Linked DNA regions of Homo sapiens. The protein of the gene in region 1 interacts with the protein of each later gene in a pairwise test. Each region holds a gene or a part of one and is shown on either strand. Other genes may lie near its edges.

The links.
Region 2: the proteins of TTC3 (region 1) and FMNL2 interact in a two-hybrid assay, tested with the Homo sapiens proteins (one large-scale study listed by BioGRID and IntAct).
Region 3: the proteins of TTC3 (region 1) and PPFIBP1 interact in a two-hybrid assay, tested with the Homo sapiens proteins (one large-scale study listed by BioGRID and IntAct).
Region 4: the proteins of TTC3 (region 1) and SH3BP5 interact in a two-hybrid assay, tested with the Homo sapiens proteins (one large-scale study listed by BioGRID and IntAct).

Annotation. Positions count from the first base shown.
Region 1 is NC_000021.9:37,078,515-37,084,818, reverse strand, and holds part of TTC3 (E3 ubiquitin-protein ligase TTC3), read right to left. Parts: intron 1,873-6,304; exon of another isoform or gene 488-1,872; intron 1-487. UniProt on the Homo sapiens protein: E3 ubiquitin-protein ligase which catalyzes the formation of 'Lys-48'-polyubiquitin chains. Mediates the ubiquitination and subsequent degradation of phosphorylated Akt (AKT1, AKT2 and AKT3) in the nucleus.
Region 2 is NC_000002.12:152,618,909-152,625,212, reverse strand, and holds part of FMNL2 (formin-like protein 2), read right to left. Parts: coding exon 6,055-6,304; intron 5,705-6,054; coding exon 5,495-5,704; intron 4,252-5,494; exon of another isoform or gene 4,122-4,251; intron 2,677-4,121; coding exon of another isoform or gene 2,656-2,676; intron 1-2,655. UniProt on the Homo sapiens protein: Plays a role in the regulation of cell morphology and cytoskeletal organization. Required in the cortical actin filament dynamics.
Region 3 is NC_000012.12:27,687,347-27,691,705, reverse strand, and holds part of PPFIBP1 (liprin-beta-1), read right to left. Parts: intron 4,322-4,359; coding exon 4,199-4,321; intron 3,409-4,198; coding exon 3,283-3,408; intron 2,692-3,282; coding exon 2,503-2,691; intron 871-2,502; exon of another isoform or gene 580-870; intron 1-579. UniProt on the Homo sapiens protein: May regulate the disassembly of focal adhesions. Did not bind receptor-like tyrosine phosphatases type 2A.
Region 4 is NC_000003.12:15,257,878-15,264,181, forward strand, and holds part of SH3BP5 (SH3 domain-binding protein 5), read right to left. Parts: intron 4,413-6,304; coding exon 4,282-4,412; intron 2,706-4,281; exon of another isoform or gene 1,927-2,705; coding exon 1,884-1,926; exon of another isoform or gene 1,174-1,883; coding exon 954-1,173; exon of another isoform or gene 757-953; intron 1-756. UniProt on the Homo sapiens protein: Functions as a guanine nucleotide exchange factor (GEF) with specificity for RAB11A and RAB25. Inhibits the auto- and transphosphorylation activity of BTK. Plays a negative regulatory role in BTK-related cytoplasmic signaling in B-cells.

The DNA.
Region 1 (6,304 bases):
ATTTCACCATATTGGCCAGGCTGGTCTTGAACTCCTGACCTTGTGATCCGCCCGCCTCGGCCTCCCAAAGTGCTGGGATTACAGGCGTGAGCCACCGCACCCGGCCTTGTATTTTGTTTTTAACTAGAGAGGCAATGTGACAAAGTGGTTAAGAACAGGGACTCTGCAGCCAAGACTCTGGGCTTGAGTCCTGGCTCTCTTGTTTCCTTGGGTGTGTGATCTTGGGCAAGTTACTTAACCTCTCTGTGCTTCCTCTGTGTTTCCTCGCATATCAAATGGGGATAACGATACTACCTACCTGATCAATCTGTTAATACATGTAAAGAGCTTAGAAGAGTACCAGGTATATGGGAAATGCTATAAATACCAGCTATCATTAACATTAATGTTAGATGAGTATTTTTAAAATCCACTGTTTGGATGCTTCCAGCTAAATAGTCTACCTTAATTGCTAAATCCAAAGAGCACTTTTCAGCTTACAACTTACTTGACGCTGTGGACCACTTCCTCCTCAGAACTCTTCATTTGGACTCCAAAGACCATCTTCTCCTGGTTTTCCTCCTATTCGTCTGGCTGCTCTTCCTCAGTTTCCTTCATGGGTTCTTCTTCTCCATTCCCCGCCACCCAATGTCAACTCTCTTTTCTTCTCACTCTTACTCTCTCCTTGGGTGAATTTATCCACCACACCCATGACTTAACACAGCACTTTCTGAACTTGCATCGTTTGCATAGCTTCACCGTGATTTTTGCCATTTCCATGTATCACATATATTTTTAGTTAATATTTCCCTTTTATTGAGCTCACTTGGCCTAAGTGATAATGTCCATGATTATCAAAGGTTAGATGTGCAAGTTATGTTTCTCATACACATTAAATTCCTATCTATTAAAATTTTTTCAAGTGTTTATCTATGTACCAGTTTAAATTATCTCATATGCACTGCAGTAAACAATGGCTTCCAAAATTCCAAATGCTGAAGACTCCCAAATCCTTCCAGGCGGGGTTGTATCTCTTGACTTCTAGACCCTACTAGAACTACTACAGGATCTTAACCAAGATGTCCCACAAGCCCCTCTGAATCAGGAAGTTCAAAAACAAACATCTTTTCCTCAAAAACAAACATATGAAATGAAGTTCTTTCCTCTTTCTGTATGCTGTTTATCAGTTAATTGTTCTACATGTCATTTTACTGCCCAAACCTAAACCCTGGGAGTCAACCTAGACTCCCCAGTCTCCTTCAATATTTCTGTCCAATGGACCACTAACTCTTGTCATTTCTGCTTCCCTAAGAAATCTAAAATTAGCACACATATACTTCTTCATGCCCAGTGCCACTGCCTTCACTGTTTCTCCTCTGAACTAATTTAACAAGCAGTCTCCTAACTGGTCAGACTTGCCTTCAATCTTGGCATCCTCTAAAACTCTGATCATATCACTTTACTGCTTAAAACCATGCAACAGCTTCCCTTCAGCTTGAGAATAAAGTCCAACTTCCCTAATATAAGCATAGAAGACCTTTTGTGATCTTGCTCCTGCTTTTATCCCCAGTCACTCCACAACACACAACCTAGAAGCCAGTCATACCCAACTGCTTGTCCTTCCTAAACAAAACTTATTCTGCAACCACCTAATGTCTATTAGTTCTTAATACTCAATTTCAGGAAGCATTTCCTGATCTTCCCACTACCATCAAGTTGATTTTTGCACCTCTTCTCTGTAAACAAGAGCACCCTGCCCATGTCTCTGACAGCAGTTTTCACATTGTTTGACCATCACAGGTTTATCTCTGCAGGGTCACTATGGATCCAGAGGATATATTGTGCAATCCATTTGCCATCTGTACTGCTATTTACTTAATACTTTTCTTTAGGATAACTCAAATCTTAACTTAGATGTAAACTAGTTTTAATGGAAATGTTGGTATCACCAAGAAAGCTTGCTTGGTACCATAAAATTTTTTATAATACAATCAAACAAAAATATACTACTAAAATTAAATATTAAAATAAAGAGCTTCTGATCCCATCAGTTATGGTCAACTATACACTCTGGGGGAATGTACTGTTGGGAGGAAAAAGGTATATCCTAGATTAAAAAAAAAAACACTTTTTGGATGTTTTTGCTGAGCTCATAGAAATAGGGGAACATGTGAAGGCACCCTCTCCACGCAAAAGCAACAAACCTTGAGCTAGAAATTAAACCTGGCTACAGTTTAGTGCTACAAGTAGTGGTGCCAAGAGCAGTAATAGGATCAGGACACTGAGCCCTGGGCCAGAAGCAAAATGTAGGAACTCAAAAGTGATGCCAGCTAAACTTTCTGGCTCCCAGACAAAGCTGATAGAAATGCTTTCAGAAAGCAAGCATCCTCAAATTAGACTCTCAAGATCACCACAAAGATCAAACAGAAGTTCATAATCAATGATCACCAAACACATGAGGTGACAGCTACATTGAGGAGAGACAACAGAAAAAAAAACAAAAAAGCAATAAATTTAGACATCCCCCTCCTCAAGGATATCAGACATTGGGAATGTCTGATATAGTCTACAGAATAGCTATAGAGTCACAAAAATCAGCATATAACATGAGAACATGAAGAATGACTGGACATATCAAAAAAGAACCAGGCAGAACTTTTAGAAATTAAAAATGCGGCCGGGCATGGTGGCTCATGCCTGTAATCCCAGCACTCTGGGAGGCCAACGTGAGCAGATGACGAGGTCAGGAGATCGAGACCATCCTGGGTAACACGGTGAAACCCCGTCTCTACTAAAAATACAAAAAAATTAGCCGGGCGTGGTGGCGGGCGCCTGTAGTCCCAGCTACTCGGGAGGCTGAGGCAGGAGAATGGCGTGAACCCGGGAGGCGGAGCTTGCAGTGAGCTGAGATCGCGCCTCTGCACTCCAGCCTGGGCGACAGAGAGAGACTCCATCTTAAAAAAAAAAAAAAAAAGTAATTAAAAATGCAATTGTTAAAAGAAAAAAAAGAGACAGGATGGGTTACAGAGGATATTAGGCACAGTTGAAGAGAAAATTGGTGAACTAAAATATATGCCTTATGAAATTATCCAGCACTGTAAATTCTGGTAAAGAGAAACAAAGAGATAAAAAATATGAAAGATAAAGAATAAGTGATCTGGAAACAGTTTAGTGTATATATATATCCAGTTAAAGTTCCAGCAGGAGAGAAGAGACTAATGAGACATAATATTTAAAGAATACAGGGCTCAGAAACTTCTAGATCTCATGAAAGACAAAATGCAGAATCATGAAACACATGCATCCAAAATAGGATAAATATAATCTCTATCTAGACTTAGAAGTGAAATGATGTAACACAAAAGACAGAAAATCCAATGTAACTAAAAGAAAAATGATATTTTCTTCAAAAAACGCATAAATAGGCTGGGTGCAGTGGCTCACGCCTGTAATCCCAGCACTTTGGGAGGCTGAGGCGGACAGATCACGAGGTCAAGAGATCAAGACCATCCTGGCCAACATGGTGAAACCCCATCTCTACTAAAAATACAAAAATTGGCCAGGCATGGTGGCAGGTGCCTGTAGTCCCAGCTACTTGGGAGTCTGAGGCAGGAGAATCGCTTGAATCCAGGAGGCGGAGGTTGCAATGAGCCAAGATGGCGCCACTGCACTCCAGCCTAACAACACAGCAAGACTCCACCTCAAAAAAAAAAAAAAAAAAAAAAAAAAAGGCATAAATAAAACTGGCAGCACACTTTGTATAAGCAACAGCAGAATAGTATTCCTACCCTACTGACAGAAAAGAAACACCAACCTACAATTGTACATCCATCAAAATGATCTGTCAAGAACAAAGGTAAAATAAAAATACTTTTAGATTTTTTTTAATATCTAAAACTGAGTCAAACACCAACCAAGACACCTGGAACATAACCAATTAAAAGACAGAAGTTGTCTGGTGAGATTAAAAGAAAAATCCAGTAGTATGTCCCTTATAAGAGACACTTAAAATGTAAGGACACTAAAAAAAATCAAAGTAAAATGAAAGAAAAGAATATTCCAGGTAAATTAGCACCAAAAGAAAGACGGGATCAGACAAAAAGCCTCTAAGACAAAGAAGCAAACTTAGAGAAGATCACAATATAGTAAAGGTTCGAGCCACTAGGAAAAAAATGTTAAGCTTGCATGTAGCTAATAAAAGTCTCAAAATACAGAAGAACAAAAATTGTTAGAACTACAGGAAATCTGTTAGAAACTAGTAATGGTGGAATATTGCAACACACTTCTCTCAGTTAATGATAGGATAAACCAAAATTAATAAGGATAAAGACTATCAGAACAACACAAATAACAAGCTTTACCTAATAGACACTTAACAATTACAGAATATATACTCTTCACAAGTGTACACAGAACAGTTCTAATAATTCACTATGTACAAGGCCATAAAGCAAGGGCAAAAAAAAAAAAATGCTAAAAAGATAAAATATTCTCTGGCAACACAAGTAAGAAATCGATAATTAAAGGAAAACAATATAGACACATTTGAAAATTTAAAAATGTCTAAGTAACTCATAAGTCAAAGAAAAAATCAAAATAGAAATTGTAAAAATACTTAGATTTGAAAGTTAATGAAAACACTATAAATTAAACTATGTTAGATAAGCAAAAATGAACTTTGAGGAAGTTTACAGTCTTGCATGCTTATACTAGGAAATCGGAATGGTTGAAAATTAATATTAAGTGTGTAATTTAAGTGAAAAAAATAGTAAAATAATAAACTGAAAGTAAAATGAAATAATAAAAGAGAAAAAAGATCAATGAAATAAAAAACAAATAATAGAACAAATTAGGCCAAAAGTTAATCCTTTGCCAAGATTTTAAAAATGGACAAACTTTTACTAAGACTGATCAAGAAAGAGAAGTCAGACATAAATAATATTCAACATGAGAAAAGGGGAACACATATACAAATAAAACAGAGATTAAAAAGAGAATTAATGCCATACCACGAGCGGTGGCTCACACCTGTAATCCTAGCACTTTGGGAGGCCGAGGTGGGCAGACCACTTGAGGTCAGGAGTTTGTGAAGAGCCTGGCCAACATGGTGAAACTCCGTCTCTACTAAAAATACAAAAAAATCAGCCAAGCATGGTGGCGCACGGCTGTAATCCCAGCTACTCAGGAGGCTGAGGCAGGAGAATCGCTTGAACTCAGGAGGCAGAGGTTGCAATGAGATGGCACCACTGCACTACTCCAGCCTGGGCAACAGAGGGAGACTCTATCTTAAAAAAAAAAAAAAAAAAAAAAAAAAAAAAAAAACCATACCATAAACTTGATGAAAGGACAAATTTCTAAAACTTACCAAAACTGACTAAAAGAAATAGAATACCTGAACAGTCCTATGACTGTTCAACTGCTAATTACTACTAAACCTCCAAGAAGAAAACATTAGATCCAAATGACCTTATAGTTAAGTTCCACCAAGCTTTTAAGAAACAAATCACTCCAATCCAAACTCTCCCAGGGAACAGAAAAAGAGGAACTATTCTCTAACTCATGGTATAAAGTCAGTGTAACTTTAATACCCAAGTCAGATAAGACAGCCAATAAAGAAAAATGAGAAGTGATTCTAGCCATAAACAGACACAAAAATCTAAATAAAATATGAGCAAACTCAATCTAGTAGTTCATAAAAATATAATCTATAAAGACCAATTTGGGTTTATCTCAAGAAAGAATATAAAAGAAAATGAACAGTTTTAAATCTATAAAACGGAATTCATTACATTTAACAGATTAAAGAAGAAAAGACACAAGATATTCTCAACAAATGCAGAAAAGCATGTGACAACTGAAAAGACTTCCCTAACTTAATCAAAGGTATCTACAAAAATTCACAGCAAATGTTATTCTCAGCTGAGAAATATTCTCTTTAAAATTGAGAACAAGAACTCTATGCCCACTATAATCGCTTCTAATGAACAACCCTAATCACTTCCATTGAACGTAAGTATAAAGTATGCCAGCACATTTAAGACCAAAAAAATGAATAAATTAAAAGCAAAAATAACTAGAAGAACTAAAACTGTCACTATTTGCAAATGATATAATTATCCACACAGAAAACACAAAGGAATTTCAGAAAAAATATTAGAAGTAGTAAGTTTATCAAGTGGATGACTAAAGGGTCAATATTTTTAAAAATTCATTAAATTTCTATTTAACAATAAGTTAAAATATTTACTAACAATAAATAAGTTAAGATAGAATCTTTAAGAACACCACCATTTATAATAGCAACAAAAACAATAACATCAGAATT
Region 2 (6,304 bases), on another chromosome or scaffold:
TAAGGGCCAAGGGTTGATTTTTTTTTTTCTTTTAACTCAGGCAACTAATTTGCTGCATTACAGTTACAATATTAGGACAATGGTTGGGACAAATAAAAAGTGTTGGAGAGCAAAGATTATTACTCATGTTACTAGATAGCAGAGAGGGCAAAAACTTGCCATATTTGGACATCCTAAATTCTTGGTTGCAGACCACATGTTTACAAACAAACCTTAGAAGATGATCAGGGACTGCAGACAGTGGCTGACTAGACTACCAGAAGTACAACGTCATGAAGGCTGACTTCCTGTGGGTGATTCCGATAATGAAGATATATTGGCTGCTGGGTTATTTCAAGCAGACTAAGGGATATGAATGGCCTAAATGAGAAAATAGGTTTTGAGGTCTTGCTCTGTCACCCGGGCTGCAGTGCAGTGCCGCAATCATGGCTCGCTGCAGCCTTGACCTCCCAGGCTCGGGCAATCCTCCCACCTCAGCCTCCAAGTAGCTGGAACCACAGCTGTGTGCCACCATGCCTGGCTAATTTTTATATTTATTGTAGAGACAGAGTTTCACATGTTGCCCAGGCTGGTCTCAAACTCCTGAACTCAAGCGAGCTTCCCCACTCGGCCTCCCAGAGTGCTGGGATTACAGGCGTGAGCCATCTTGCCCAGCCTAAGAAAATGTTTAAGACAACAGAGTGAAAAAAGGGGTACATACAGACCAAGACTCTGTCTTAAAAATAAATAAATAAAAGGGGCGGGGGGGAAGGAAAAGAAATTGCTGGGCGTGGTGGCTCAAAGTCCTAGCACTTTGGGAGGCCAAGGCAGGTGGATCACCTGAGGTCAGAAGTTCAAGACCAGCCTGGCCAACATGGTGAAACCCTGTCTCTACTAAAAATACACAAATTAGCCAGTTGTGGTGGTGTGCACCTATAATCCTAGCTACTCGGAAGGCTGAGGCAGGAGAATCGCTTGAACCCGGGAGGCAGAGGTTGCAGTGCACCGAGATCACGCCATAGCACTCTAGCCTGGGTAACAAGAGCGAAACTCCATCTCAAAAAAGAGGAAGGAAGGGAGGAAGGGAGGAAACTCCTCTTTTTTGAGATGGGAAGGAAGGGAAGGGAAGGGAGGGGAGGGGAGGCGAAGGGAATTGAGTGGAGGGGAGGGGAGGGGAGGGGAGGGGAGGGAAGGGAAGGAATTGTATGGATTCTCAGACTCAGAAATAGCCACAGTCCCTTGCCCTTCATTTTGAAAAGCAAGTTCTTCCCAGGAGTCAGCTGTGTTTGACTAGGAGGTATCTACACACTCATTAAAAATACTGAAAACCTCTTAATAGAGAGAATGGGATGTATCTTTAAGGGACTATGGGGAGTGCCAACTCCTCTCACTGTGCGGGAATATGCCAAAAAAGGTAATCCATTTAAAATTATATTTATCTATTATATATCATAAAGAAGTCTTCCCAAACCATTTAGCCATACACATTCAGCTTCGTCAGTCTGTTCTGGGTAGCCTACCACACTACTTGGGAGCTTCACTATTTGTCATTATTAGCAAGACAGGGAGGAGAACTTCAGCGCTTCAGTGCAGAACAAAATAAAAGCAACACACGACTAAGCTTGTAGCTGGCTGCCTGCCTGCCTGCCTCAGTTGGCGTTAACTGAGACAGACAGTGCCTCTCATTCCTCCAGAGTTACAAAGGCCATTTAAACAGCAGGAATGTCATCTGATAAATCCACACAAAAGCATGCAGAAAAACAGACACAGCTTTAGCCAAACCAGGCCTCTCCACCACCAAACATGACACCTTTGTCCCCACTACGCCACAGTGTCAGATTCCTCACCGTACAGCATTTTGTCTACGCTACCCAGGAAAACAGATGTTCTCGATGGGACAAAGGAACAGACTTTCCTCTAGCACTTGCCCTAGCATTGCCTCTGGCACTTCGGCAATGTTAGGGATCTGGGGAGCAGCAGAAGGGCCGCAGAGGAGTCTTTTCATAACCTGAGGTGACAGGTTGGTGCCAATGGCGTCCTACCTTCCTCCCACAGACATGGTAGGCTCATGACGCTCGCTAGAAGTTTGCCATTTGCAACCACCCTTCTAACTATTTAGCAAGGTCAGGAATAAGCCTGAGATCAGAACACAGGCAAGAAAGTTCTCCTCCTTGGAAAGGTTTTCCTGGCTTTAACCAGGGTGGGAGTGGGAAGAGGAGGAAAGCACATAGGTGACCACTGGACACACTGTGTCCCCATGGCTCGGGCTAAAGGCGGGTGAGTGCTCCCTGGAGTGGGCCAGAGACCAGCATGAGGGAGGGAATGGAAAAGGGGCACCTGGCACCTTTTTTTTGTTCTTAGAGTTGAAGTCTCAGATACAAATATAAAAATTAAAAGAAGAAGAAGAAAAAAAAAAAAAAACCTTTTCTCAGAGGAAATGGAAGAGGGCATATGAATCCAGGATGTCTGCTTCAAGGACAATAGTCTCTTATGTAGGTTCAACTAGAATGTGTGGGCAAACCTGGAATCATCATCAGCCACCACCAAGACTTCCCGCAGACACAAAGTCAAAATGCAATGGATCAAAGCAAAATGGAGTGGAAAGATGTCAAGGCACAGTGTGACCAACAGAAACACATGGCAAATACTCAACACACTCAGTGAGGAGCAACCTACAGAAAAGCTTGATTGGCCCATCTTTTGTGGAAGCAGAAAGAACAGAGAAAATACAAAAAAAATTAGATATGGTTAGAGTCAAGTGGCTCAGCAGTTCACGCACTCAGCATAGAATTTCATGCTTCTTGGACACATTTCACAAGGCGGCACAGAGCCAAAAATTCATTTCCATTCAGGCCTGCCTCCAAGACTCAACTATTTCATTTTTAAAATTATCCTTTTTAGAAGAGGGAAGAAAAAAATTATTTCATCGTAGTGGTACCAAACAGCAATACTGAACTGTGCTAGGCATTCCATAGGATAGGAATAATTTTTACATGAAAAACAATCAACCAAAGTCCAAATTCGCATTGTGAGGATCCGAGCACATCCTCCCAGACAGACGGCAAAGGTTCCACCTGCTCAGCAGCCTGTCTCAGGTGACCTACCGGGGGAAAGGGAGCCAGGTTGTTCTATCACAGACTTGAGAGGAAGGAAGCCTTCTTCTTCAAATGCATATTTCACACTACTACTATTTTCTCTATAAAATACAAAGAAAACTCTCAACTAGATAAACTATGGGGCTCTCCTCTTGGTCTTCTGTCTTGGTCTCCAAGAACACACCTGCCCATTGAAGAGATAAGACCCTCGTGTTGCCTGTGGGTCCAGAGGCCAAGTGATGTCATAGGTTTCTGACTTCCCAGGAGGCTTCAGAATATTAGCTCAGCTCTGTCTCTTCATTCTACTGGGCATCCTGATTCTGTCTGGCCTCTTGGTTCCAGAGTGAGAGAGAGAGTTACTCAACACACTAGCAAAACATCTCACCAAATGGGCTTCAATCACTAAGAATTAACAGTCTAAATAAGGATGAATAATAAAGAAAGATTAAAGGCCTTGGAGAAATTGCCTGATCTCGAGCTATCAAAGACTCACAAGGATCTTATAATGCTTCCAAGACATCCCTCACAATCATTTAGTGGACACTTATGGAAATAAAGAGTTCCTGTATTCCCACCTACAGTCCTCTAAATTGCATGAGCCACAACAGGGACCACTTCCAAGTATAGCAAACCCTAAAAGCAGTTGGTTATCAGCCAAGCACAGAGCTCTACACCTTAAAATATTGAGGCAATTGACAGAGCCAACACATTTTTAAAATCAAGTAGTGGGAAGAACCCAAGCAAAACAATTAATAAATAGATCAATCACACAGGACATGGCCCCTTGGAAGGAAGCTCTAGACACATCTCAGCCTCTGGGCTCTCACTCGGCTAAGGCGGTTCTGAGGTCTATGTTAGTGCTCAGGTGCGTGGAAGTGGGTGCTAAATCACACATCAGCGTTTGTCAGAGACAAAGGAAGCAGCCCCAAATGAGATACCACAGCAGACACATCTCACAGCAAGTGCGCCTTGGGGGCTACCAAGAGTGCCTAATCAGGGTGGCCAGGTGCACGGGACGATAATGGGTTTCCACACCCAGTTACTGACAACAGCCTGGTGATGGAACACATTCCCGGGGCTTGATATGAGGTTTCTTGTTTGTCTGTTTATATTCCATAGTCCATCAGTTCCACGATGACTCTGCTCCAACTTTTCTCCTTCAGAAGTAATAAAAGTTCTAGAAGAAAGTGGTAGACGGGGAAGATCTTGAAGGGTAGAAATAAGTCACCGATTTACTGTGGACCTTACTGTGAACTGGAATCTTGTTTCCCTGACAGTTTTATATAGAAGTCGGGGTGGAAGTAAAACCATGGATTTGATGTGGAGTGAATTTATTCTAGGTGACTCTGGGGCATCCAAAAGGGCTCCAGTCATTGGGATGAATGAGCCCCAGTGACCGGCTGGCAGAGCTGCAGATGGGATCCTGGAAGGGATGGAGATTGGGAAATCTTTACAGCTAAGACTGGCTTTTAGACTTTGGGCAAAAGGCTCTGAGAACTATCACAGCCTTGGAAATGGAGGCTATTAGAGTGGTAGTTCTTTATTGTAAATAAGAGACCTCATGAACAGGCTGAAGTAAATGAGGAGGCAGAATTACCCCACGTCACAGGGATGGCAAAGCTTAGAGCAATTCCAGATGCCAGGGAAACACTTCAGGACTGAGAAAACGGCTCGTAGCGTCATCTTTGTTTCCGTGAGTCAAAACAAAGAGCTTAGATTTCAAGGCATTAGAGTGACTCTTCCTCCTGCTCTAACCCCTACCTCCCATTTTATTTCTGGTGAGGTGAGGATGCTGTTTTCTATCTTCTGGTTGGCAAGAGGACATGAATTATTTGGCAGCATTTTAAGGCATGATAATACGGCTGTTGGCAGCACTTCCTCCTTGAAGTTTAAATCCACTCTAGCAAATTCTGATGTTCTCGAATGCTCAGAAGACATGCCTGGAAGCCTACGTCAGGCAATTACACATAAAAGCATGTTTCCCTTTTATAGATGACATCAAAAATACCATTTAAAAAAAAAAAGATCCAGAAGCACTCAATGTCTGTGCCTAATACTGAGCTTTGAATACTACAGGTGTCCAGAAAGTATCTGCTGAACCCACAAAAATGCACTGATCCTCAAGCAGGTAGCTTGTCTCTCTTCCATTCTCTCGGTGGGGCCAGTGGAAGGCAGGAAGATGGTGTAGGAGATCAGAACCTCCCATTGTGGGGTGTGGTTGTGACAAAGACTACTCAGAGCAAAGTGCCTCCCATGCGTGATGATGTTCCCTCTATCGGCTACATCAGCAGGAATTTCTTATACTAGGAAGAGATACACATCATTGCAAGAGACCTGGACTTTGAAAGAATAGCTTCAACTCTCCGAGATAAGACAGCATTTCTGATATGAGTACCTGGGTTTGAATTCTGTGCTCTTACCTGCTAATCCTGAGTTGAAAACCACTGTGGGTGAAGATGTTCCAGGCAGCGGAGGTGCAGAGGGAAGGGGAGGTGCTAAGGGAGGAGCTGGTACAGTCTCAGCTGCAGGGCCTGGGAGAGGAGGAGGCGGAGGGGGCGGTGGGGGAGGAGGAGGTGGAGGAGGGGGCGGCGGCGGCGGTGGCATAGGTGGTGTTACTGGACCATTTTGCACTAGCAAAGAAAAAAGAAACAGATGGACTTTGAAAATACGGGAATGGCTTTCCTGCAATAAGCCATGTGCATATAAAGCCATCTGAAAACAACACACTTAAAAGGACAAAGGACTGTTTTCAAAAACCAAAAAATGTCCTCATTGACATGTGGGAAAAATATTTCAACATATGTGAAATGAGGATTTATAAATTTAATCTCAAAATGTAAACAGTTAAGAACTACTCAAGAAAACCAATTCTTAAAGAACATGCCAACAAAAACGGACAAAGGACAGAAGTGGACAGTTGGCAAAAGAAGAAATACAAATATTCCAAAACTTCCTCAGTCCTCCTGCCAAGGCTTCTTACCTGTTTCAGGTGTGTCTGATGAGGGAGGCAGTGGTGGTGGAGGAGGGGGCAAGGGTCCTGAGGAAGCGGCCCCCATTGTGGGTCCCACAGAGTTACCTGCTACCACTTCTGACCCCATGGACAATGTGCCAGAAGCCACAACTGGCAGTATGGCGATATCCCCATCCCCTTTCTTCTGAATTTTAATGGTCCCTTGTTTCTCTAGCTCATGAATCTTTTTTTCCAGGGTAGACTGTCTTTGAATTGCTTC
Region 3 (4,359 bases), on another chromosome or scaffold:
AATTCATATAATCAAGGCCTGATAACATGTGATTTTTTTTTGCGTTGCCCCCTCCCTCCTATATGTATAATTTAATTATTTACCCCATGGTAGAGAGAAAAGTAGCTGGATGTTTAAATATGGATAAAAACAAAAGGGCATCCTAGGCATATAAATGATGCAATGATAAATGACCCTTGTTATGAATCTCAGGAAATTAACCTTATTCTTCTTATTCACGCCAAATAGCTGAATAGTCACCGTGATAAACAAAATATGGCAAGAATAATTTGATTACATCATTACTATTATTTTTAGAGACAGAATCTTGCTATGTTGCCCAGGCTGGCCTCAAACTCCTGGGCTCAAGGGATCCTCCTGCCTCAGCCTCTGGAGTAGCTGAAACTACAGGCACAAGCCACTGCACCTGGCTTCATAGTTTTGATTAGACAGGACTTAATGCAATGAGATTTCTCACAGCTGAATCCAATTTTGCAAGGTTTTTCAATCTAAGATTAGCAAAATAGAATAGACTTCACTATATTTTTTCTTTGGGTGAGGCTATAATTATCTTGTATGCCTATTCTGCTTCCATAACAGGACTGGTGACTGCTAAAAGAATTTTTTGGAGAGGAAACATCAGTGATACTTAGAAGAGAAACTCCATGATGGTCACTGGGTTGGTCACTGGATACTCAGGCAGATAGAGGGGGTAAAAAAAAATTAAAAAGAACTTTGGCACAAATTTCTGGAGGACCCAGTAACCCATCAAGTTGGTTGGGATAACATATTTAGAAGAGTTAATCTAGGATTAATTTTAAAGAAGAAAAAGTAATCTGAATTTGGTATGATCCATAAATCCAGGTAAACTAGGAAATACCCATTCTCTTCTGGCCCACCTTCAATCATTTTTAAAGTGTATTTTCCTATTTACGAGGCTGGTCAATCATAAGCCAGAGAAGCTAAATCTGTACAAGAGAAACCTCTCTTCTGTACTTGATTTATAAAAACAGAACAACTGCAATCAATATTTGGACCCAAGTTATGGGCTGTCTGCATTGCCAATACATGGATTATGGAAGCCAATATTATGCTGTTCATTATTATTTTTTTAGAGGCAGAATCTTGCTCTGTTGTCCAGGCTGGAGTGCAGTAGCATGCTCATAGCTCAATCAGAGCTCATTGCAGCCTTGAACTACTGGACTCAGGTGATCCTCCTGCCTTGGCCTCCCAATGCACTGGGACTACAGGCATGAGCCACCATGCCCACCTAAGAGGGAACACCCAAAAAGGGACATGAACCTTGGACCCTCAGATTAAAAGTCTGATGCTCTACTGACTGAGCTATCTGGGTGCATTCTCTTAATTATTATACTTTTAAAAGATATATACTCAGTTGTCCCTCAGTATACACAGAGCATTAGTTCCAAGACCCCCATGTATACCAAAATCCGTACATACTCAAGTCCAGCAGTACCCGTGTACCTAAAAAGTTGGGCCTCCCTATATGTGGGGTTTGCATCCCTCCACATTTGCTTGAAAAAAAAAAATCCGAGTAGGAGTGGACCTGTGTAATTCAAACTCATGTTCTTCAAGGGTCAACTGTTCCTTCAACTTGTTAGAGTGGGCAGATAGCTAGACATGAGGGGAAGCCCCTGAGAAAAGAGAGGTCTGGAAAATCTCGCACCCCAGAAACCACCCAAAACATGCATGCTCCATTTGAGCAGAGAGGAGGGGAAATACCTATGCAGAAAGGAACGCCCCTTAAGACGCCCAGTAATCACTCACTCTGCAGATCACCTGCCAGAATGTAGCTAGCTGCATGCTGATAAAGAGGGGAAGAAGGTAAAGGAGAATTCCTAAGAGAAACGCAGGTACAGTACGTATAGATTTGACTGGTATACAACCTTCCTGGGGCGGCGGGAATGAGCAATGCAGCCTTTAGGTGGAAGTGCAGCCAACACCCGGCCCACGCATGCGCACCAACTATAGTTAAGGGAGGGTCCCACAAGCCTGGGTTGGGAACTAGGCAGGGAGAAGGCAAGGACTCAAGGCAGGAGCGGGAAAACGAGATAAAAAAGGCAGAGACTTAACACAGTGGTGAGAGCTTCAAGAAAAAACTGGACATCATAAAAACCCAATGCAGAACTCTTGGGCTCATTCTCTTTCAGCAGCCCGCTGTGCCTTGGTTTTTGGAGTGTACTGTCCCTTTAAATAAACATTGTTACTGCGACCCTGCTGTTTTCCCTGCAGGATCAGCCCCTGTACTTCTTCTTCTTTTTTTTTTATTCTTACAATAAGCTCTTTGCTCCCTATTTCCCTTCAATAAAGCTCTCTATCTGTCAACTGTCTATTGGCCAACATCTTTCTCCCAAGACAACTAAGCGCTGAGGATTCCTGCATCTGCTGGTAAGGAACCCACCCACAAAACTTAGTAAACCCCAGAAAACAGAATAACCAGGTAACCGACAAAACGTTGCCTTTGCGCCAAGCAATTATTAAACCGTATGAGCCTGAACCAACCTTCACTTTGGCAGTAGCTGTTAGAAGTACATAATCCGGCAGCTCCATGGCATCTCGCTTCTGGTGCTGTGCCTCAGCCCCAATCAGAAGGTTGAAATGAGTGGCCAAATGTCTTCGCAGCAAAGTCTTATTGGGTGGGATGTTCAATAACTGAGCCATTGTTTCTACGTTAAAACGAGGCTCTAGAACCTGTTTAAAGAAAAAAAAAAAAGCTTGTCAAAAGTCACCACAAATCATACATGTTTGTATTGTGCTTTATAATTTGCAAAGCTTTCTCTTAGGTTATCTCCAATGATCCTCTCAACAGCCCGGTGAGGTAGACACAATATGGACTTTGATCTTTAATTTACATATCTTTTCTCCATTTCTCCCAAGTTAGTGAGTGATAGAGCTGGTCCTGAAATCCAGGCTTCAGGCATCCCAATATCAGTGCTCTGCCTCTCTAGGGTGCTGTCTGTGGGAGCCACCTCCTTAAGCAACATTAACATGCAGAAATACAATCTGCATCCTTGCAGGGGTTTTCAAACATGATCATATGAGAGAAAGCAGCTACATGTTATTCAACATGAAAGAGGACAATAAAAGAGAACTGGCTTTAAATTCAATCTAGAGTTATAAGATATCAATACAAATACTCTGAAAGTAAAGGTTTACTAGAAATAGGGCAGGAGGGTTGAGTCAGATGACTTTAGGATTATGATAAGCAAAAATTGATAATATCCTACTGACTAGACTAAAGGAAGCAAAGTAAGTCAATTTTAAATTAAATCAGAGCTTTACCATGAGCCCACCATGGACACCACTGCCTCTGAGATTGGGCGCATATTCTGCCAAGTCCACGGAGCGCAGCCACTCCATCACTCGATGGTTAGTCCACTTCTGAACTTCTGATGGGGCGATGGTATTCTATGGGAACACACAACCAGGATCCTAAATATTAAATTGCATTTTCTGTCTAAAAAGTCTGCTCCATGGAGTACAGTTACTCAACAACCCACTAAATGCAAAAAGAAAGGGAAAAATTCTCTTTTAAAGAATTTCTGTCATAGTTTGAGTTTCAAGCTTTCTTATATACTAATAAAGCATTGCTTTAGGAAAGGAAGTCTTTTTTTTTTTTAAGACAGGGTCTAATTCTCTTACCCACGCTGGCGTTGCAGTGGTATAATCAGGGCTCACTGCAGCCTCCATCTCCCAGGCTCAGACGGATCCTCCTACCTCAGCCTCCTGAGTAGCTGGGACCACCAGCGTGCACCCACCATGCCTGGCTAATTTATTATTATTTTTGTAGAGACAGGGTCTTCCTATGTTGCCCAGGCTGGTCTTGATCTCCTGGGCTCAAGTGATTCTTCTGCCTTGGCCTCCCAAAGTGCTGGGATTATAGGCATTGGCCACTATACTTGGCCAGAAAAGGAAGTCTTTATAGTGATATTTATCTCTGTTGATTAGAGTCAGGAAAAAAAAATACACCCAAGAAAAGGAAGAAGCATAACTGAAAAAGAACCCTTGGCTTTAGTTACACAAGGGGAACCGTCATGGAGAGAAAAGGAAGGAATACAGAAAAAGCCTAAGAAGTAAATGAGGCTGGATTTTAAGGCTTTTCCTGCAGGCTCCAAGAAAAATGGCTCTTAGTTTCGACACATGGACAGTCCCATGCCTGGGAAGTGCATGCTTATAAACCTCAATCTTAAAACACTACCTCATCAGATGGCCGCCTCCGTAGACAGTTTGGTTCAAAGTTATTGATCCTCAGGACCTGGATGGCCCTTTTGATACTGAGATGGTGTAGCACACTTACAACCTTCAGAGACAGTAAGTCATCCTGCAAAAAAGAACAAAAGGAGGAGCTCACTGTGCTGG
Region 4 (6,304 bases), on another chromosome or scaffold:
AAAGGTTTCTTATAAATGATAAATACTGTAATGTTGGGGACAGAAAATGGGCTCAGACCTGAATTGAATCCCTAACTCCACTACTTGCTGTGTGACCTTGGTCAAGTTACTTTACCTCTGTAAGCTTCATGATCCTCTCCATGCAGGGTTTGAGATGATGTATATATTAAAGTACCTCATACATAGTAGTTGTTCAAATGATAGTTTCCTTTTCCTTTACCTTGAACCTAGTACTTAAATATTTGTTGAAGGAATTAACTCCTGAGGAAGGAGCTTGGGAAAGAGCCGACAGGGATTATTGCACAGGTAAGGAAAAGAAAGGAAGTATGCAAAGACAGCGTTGGGTGGGTTTTCTTGATGAGCATGACAGAAACCAAGTCAAACTTCTATCAGTTTTCCAGGGGGAGGCCCTGGGAAAAGAGGTCTCTATGGTCAGATGTCAGTAAGAGCCACCATTTGCTGAGTGCTTCTTGGGTGTCAGGGGTTGATTCATGTAAGCTGAACCACCACCCTACACAACGGATAGTATACAGTAGATAGCGTCATACTCCCCATTTTACAGGTGAAGAAACTGAAATACAAAGTTAGGCCCTTGCCCACATCATGCCTTAGTAATGATGTAAAGGTAGCTTTGAATCAAATCTGATTACAGCTCTTCTTTCCTGCAGGACTTCTCAGCCTTGAATGTTCAAATGTATACTTTGACTCTCAAAGAGGAGTGAAGGTGTAACATTTTCCCAATTTATTTGACCACAGAATCCTGACTTTGAGGAACACTTAGTACCTTCTTAATGAACACAGTGTTCCATAAAACATGGGAACCCACCAGAAATAGCCCTCAGGCCTGCCCAACTCTGAGACCTTTCACTGATGGCCAGAGAAAGTGAGGACCTTGGGAAACAAATCACACAGTCTGATATCTCCCCACATACCCAGTGGAGCCCCTGACTTACCAGAAATGGCATCAGGCTCAGGTTTGCTCCCTGGCAGATCCTCCACAGATGTGCTGCTGCCCTCAGCACCAACACCGCATCCCCGAGGCCCCATGGCACTGGAGCGCCGCCGCTCGTGGATCTCATCTGAGATCATCTCCAGGTTCTTCAGGGCCATCTTGTACTCGCCTTTTGCCAGGGTCAGTTTGGCCTGCAGGTCATCCACAGTCTTTTTCAGTTGCTGATCAAGAGAACAGGAGACTAAGTGAAGACTACCCTGCTAGCCTTAAGATGCTTTCTGAATGACAGGTTCAAGTACATTTTCTGCCCATCATTCTACTTCAAGGAATTTTCCAAGACATGACTGAAGACCTAATTACCATTGTAACTGCTATTCATTCACCAGACAAAATCAGCCACCACCATCCCCAGATCCCATCCAGGTGACAACCTCTAATATCCAAAAACTCTCACTGGTGGAACAAACCCCATCAGGGAAGCAAAAATGGGCATCAGACACACCAAAGTCCCACAGTCTAGACATCTGGTTCCCAGTACAGTGGTTCTCAAAGTTGAGCTTGCATCAAAATCCCCTTGGGTGTTAAGACTCAGCTCACTAGACTCCAACCTCAGAGTTTCTAATTCAGTCGGTCTAGAGTGGGACCTGGTCTATCAGGTCTCCAGGTGATGCTGATGCTGCTGGTCCTAAGAGCATGCTGTGAGAACCACTGGCCTAGTACAACAGAGAAGGTGACTGAATGGCAGTTACAGAGGTTCAGAGACCACTGAAGACCCAACCGAGACAATTTTGAGGTCTGAAAACTCAGTAAAGCCTGTCTCTCCACTTTCCCCTTATAGCAAGTGGCCCATGTGATACTCTGCTACCCCAGAAAAGTGAAGCTTTGAGTGCAGAAAAATCTCATCAGTGACGAAGCCCAAAGCTACACATACCTCGAGCTGCACATAGTACTTTGCCTTGAGTTCAAAATAAGGCCTGCAGAAGACAGGAAGGAAAGCCATCAGAGTAATATAATACAGTGACCACAGTCAACTCCACAAGATGAACAAGAGGCATCAGCTACCACTGGCCAGGTCGTCCTTCCAATATTTAGTAAACTCTTAACAAGGCCGTGACATGTCAGTGATGCTCCTAGCTCTGGAGACTGACAGACACCAGATGGAACGACTGGGCTCACCCAGGGCTATATTAACAGGAGGCCCATCTCAAGACACGGGGAACCCACACACACATATCTTGGGGACTCTGCAACTTAGCTCATGTTCCTCCTCTGTGGGAAGGCTGTTCAGAGCCTCACAGGTTATACCCAGCAGTAAGGGTGGCCTGGATCTGCTCTCCTAATGAAGTTGGCTCCCCAGGGATGAAGAGCAGCTGAGGCTGGAGAAGGGGCTGCTTAAACCTCCTCCTCTACTGAAGTCAACTGGGGAAGAGAGAGAAGCACCACTCCTCCCTCACAGCACAGCAAGGCCACCACTAGGAGGGGGTCTCAGGTTGGTCCTCCCAAACCTTGTCCAAAGACTGGAGTTATTAGTTGGCTGACTCAGCCACATAATGGGCCCAAGAAATGCCAGCGTCCTAGCAGTTCCCTTGGTTCTGGGTCAGCTGAAAGAGCTTGGCTCTTTTTTAGGAACTTTGGTGCCTGAACATTAAGAGTAGATCACTGCTTTATTCTTGAGCTGTTCACCCTCCATGAAGCTCTCAAGTCCTGCATCCTGAGGATCCAGATGGATGACAAGGACACAGGACTGCCATTGGTGGGTATGAAAATCCTGAAATTTGGGGGGAGAGAGAGGTGTATAAGCTCTCTCGTGTGACCAAAAGGAGCACAAGGTGAAGAGTATGTGTGTGAATGGGCATCGGAGGGCACAGGGAAGATGTCCCAGCAAAAGGAACATGAGCATCCATGCAAGGGAGTGTGGCTGGAGAGGCAGGGTGGGCATGGAGGTGGCCTGGAAGCCACTCTGTGGAATGCACAGATGTACATTTTAACCTTTGGGCAGACAGGAGCCACCCAAGACTACGATCTATCCCTGTACTCTTCTCGGAGTCTGAAAAGGTTGGCAAAGTACAATCACAAGATTTATTTTCTTAAACAGGTTAATGGATGAGTATGTGATGTGTGTGCAGTGTGAATTCGGGGTCTTTTGAGAAAAGACCCACCATATTCACACCAAAGGAAGCAGCATCAAAGGCTGCTCCTCGGCCTCCTTGGGTGTTGGCATGTGGATGATGCCTGGGCTTGCCCAGAGCAGGCACAGGTCCTACAACAACCCTCGCCACCTCCTGCCTCCCCTGCAGAAAAATGCCATATACACGTCTACTACTTAGCTCTCAGGAGATCAGCCCCTGACACACCAAAAACCAAACCAAAACAAAAATACACTAGTCAATTAAGTGCAATAGTAAATGGTTAAATGGTGTTCCTCTGCATGTATGTGTACATATGTATGTTGGAAGAGTGTGAGCAGAAACTAAAGAAAAGTCAAGCCTGGGTGAAGGTACTGGGGGGTAGTACAGAGCCTAGGAGGACCAAACTCTTCCTTGCAGATCCTCTTCCTCACTGAATTGTCACCTTTCCCTCACTTGCATGAGGACTGGGCATCTGCCAAGCTTCCAACTGCCCAGCCCCTCCTGGCTGGGGCTGTGACCACACCTGGAGAACAGGCATTCAGTAGCCCTGCACAGCCTGCTCTGGGTCTATCTTTGGCTGTTAAGTCTAGGTCATCATAAGTCCTCCTCCTTTTGCTAGGAGGCCTAGCAATTGGGAATGAAGCAGGGGGCTTGTCCCCAAGAGAGGGTACACAGTTGTGCCTGCCCACCATTATCAATGTTGTATAAAAATATACAGGGCTGTAGTGAGAAGAGATTGGAGAAAAAAAAAAAAACTCTACTAAAGCCAGTCTTACAGCATTTTATCAGCTCTTGATCACAGGAAACATGTATTGTGAACACAACTCATCCCTATTACACTGACAGATAAATTGAGGGATAGGGCCTTGACAACACTGTCAACCACAGATCCCAGAGTACAGCGTGAATTTACCAAATCCCAGCCAATGGGCCATTTAATAATGTGCCTTTGAAATTCCTTTTTCTGTGTTTCCTAACTTAGTCATATCTAGAGCAGCCCACCCCTTAGCATCCTCTGCTTCTGGGGGTCATAGAATATTAGGGGGAAAGAGAGCCTGAGCAGGGGGGCTCTGGTGAGGCCCCAGGGTCTACATCAAAGGACTACTCAGGGTGGTCCTTGAGTGTGTGACATACAAAAGGCTGAGAAGATGCAGACTAGGACAGCCGCACGGCCCCAGGGAAGGCCCTGTCCAGACTTACTTGGACTTGTTGATGGCTCTCTTGAGTTTCTTCTCCAGCTGTCGCATGCGGCCCATGGCGGCATTGTACCTGGCTGCCGTCTCCTTATGCACCAGCTCGCTCCTGGTCTTGGTCTGCTCCGCCTCCATGACCTTAAAATGACAGCAGAGTTCAGCCCAGTCCAGCCCAGAACAGCCCAGGCTTGGAATATTACTTATATTATTTTTCAAAAAATATTCTTTGCCCGGGCATGGTGACACATGTGTAATCCCAGCACTTTGGGAGGCCAAGGTGGGTGGATCACGAGGTCAGGAGATCGGGACCATCCTAGCCAACATGGTGAAACCCGTCACTGCTAAAAATACAAAAATCAGCCGGGCCTGGTGGTGTGCTCCTGTAGTCCCAGCTACTCAGGAGGCTAAGGCAGGAGAATCACTTGAACCCGGAGGCAGAGGTTGCAGTGAGCCAAGATCGTGCCACTGCACTCCAGCCTGGGCGACAGAGTGAGACTCTGTCTCAAAAATAAAAATACTCTTTGGGCCAGGCACGGTGGCTCACACCTGTAATCACAGTCCTTTGGGAGGCTGAGGTGGGTGGATCGCCTAAGGTCAGGAGTTTGAGACCAGCCTGGCCAACATGGCAAAACCCCGTCTCTACTAAAAATATAAACATTTGCCAGGCATGGTGGCACATGCCTGTAGTCCCAGCTACTTGAAAGGCTGAGGCAGGAGAATCACCTGAACCCAGGAGATGAAGGTTGCAGTAAGCCGAGATCACGCCACTGCACTCCATCCTGGGCAGCACAGCAAGACTCCATCTCAAAATATATATGTATATATAGATATCTATATCTAGATATATATTTGAGCAAATTAGTGGTCAGACTAAGAATAAACCAACTTCCCAACAGTGGTTTTCTTTTCCTATTTATCTATTTTGAAAAAGCCTTGTGAGGAAAGATTAAATAGCTAAATTGGCTGTGGCAATGACTGAGAAAGAAAATGGAAAAACAAAAACCAGAAAATTTTGAACTATTTTCTGATTCAACAGCTGTCCACTTTCTTCTCAGGTTCCTCGATCTAAGTAGCCACCTAGACCTCCTCCCGTTCACACCTTGGGGCAGGGGCCTGATGGGCAGGCAAATGGCCAAATAGCAGCAGTGGGAACCTAAGAGATGGGGAACCTAATGGGGAGACCACCAAAACCAAGAACTAGGCATCGTGCCAGGCACGATGGCAGTCAAGCCAGCAAAGCAGCCATGACTTCCATTGTTTGGTCCTTTCCCAAATATTCTGAACTAGTTGGCTGTGCACAGAAGAACTCAGGATCCAGAAAGGGCAAACTTTACATTTAAGCAATTAAATTAAAACCCAGTCATTCACATCAGATTTTGAGGTACACAAACATTTGTGAGCAGAAGACAAGTCAAAGTTCTGGTGGGAAATTCTGGTGGGAACACTTTGTTAAGTCTGTTGAAAAAAATGAGTTACAAAACCAATACTCAAGGGCCCTCAATGGCCAAAAAACAAAAGCAGCTCACAGGCCCAGTCCCAGAGACATGGGCAATGTTAATTCTCTCCTTGCTTACCTACAGAAAAGCATCAGAACAAGGCCTGCCTTGAAGAAAGAGGAGGGAAACAAACCGCAGTTCAGGCCACATAAGCAGCTTGCGATTTCTTTCCCTGTCTTCTGCCTACCACTCAGTGTTATAAAATAAACCGGAGAGACAGTAGAGGTTAGGCTAAAGGGTTATTCTCTAATTCTGTATTCTCTGGGGAGCATCCGAGAGGAGCCCAGAGGGCTCATGGTCACTAGTCAGCTCTCTCAGACCCCGTAGAACAATTTTAGGGAGGTACCACCATGTCTTTAGTTCACAGTTAAAAAAGAAGGCCACAGAGGAAGGTTGCCAATGTTCTACCATCTCCTCCAGTCAACAGCCACAATCAGCCCTAGGATAGTTTACTTATTACTTACGATAAGGATTTTTAAAGGTACCATGAAAAATTATGAAAGACTTTTATATGGGCATTAAAAATTACAGGGT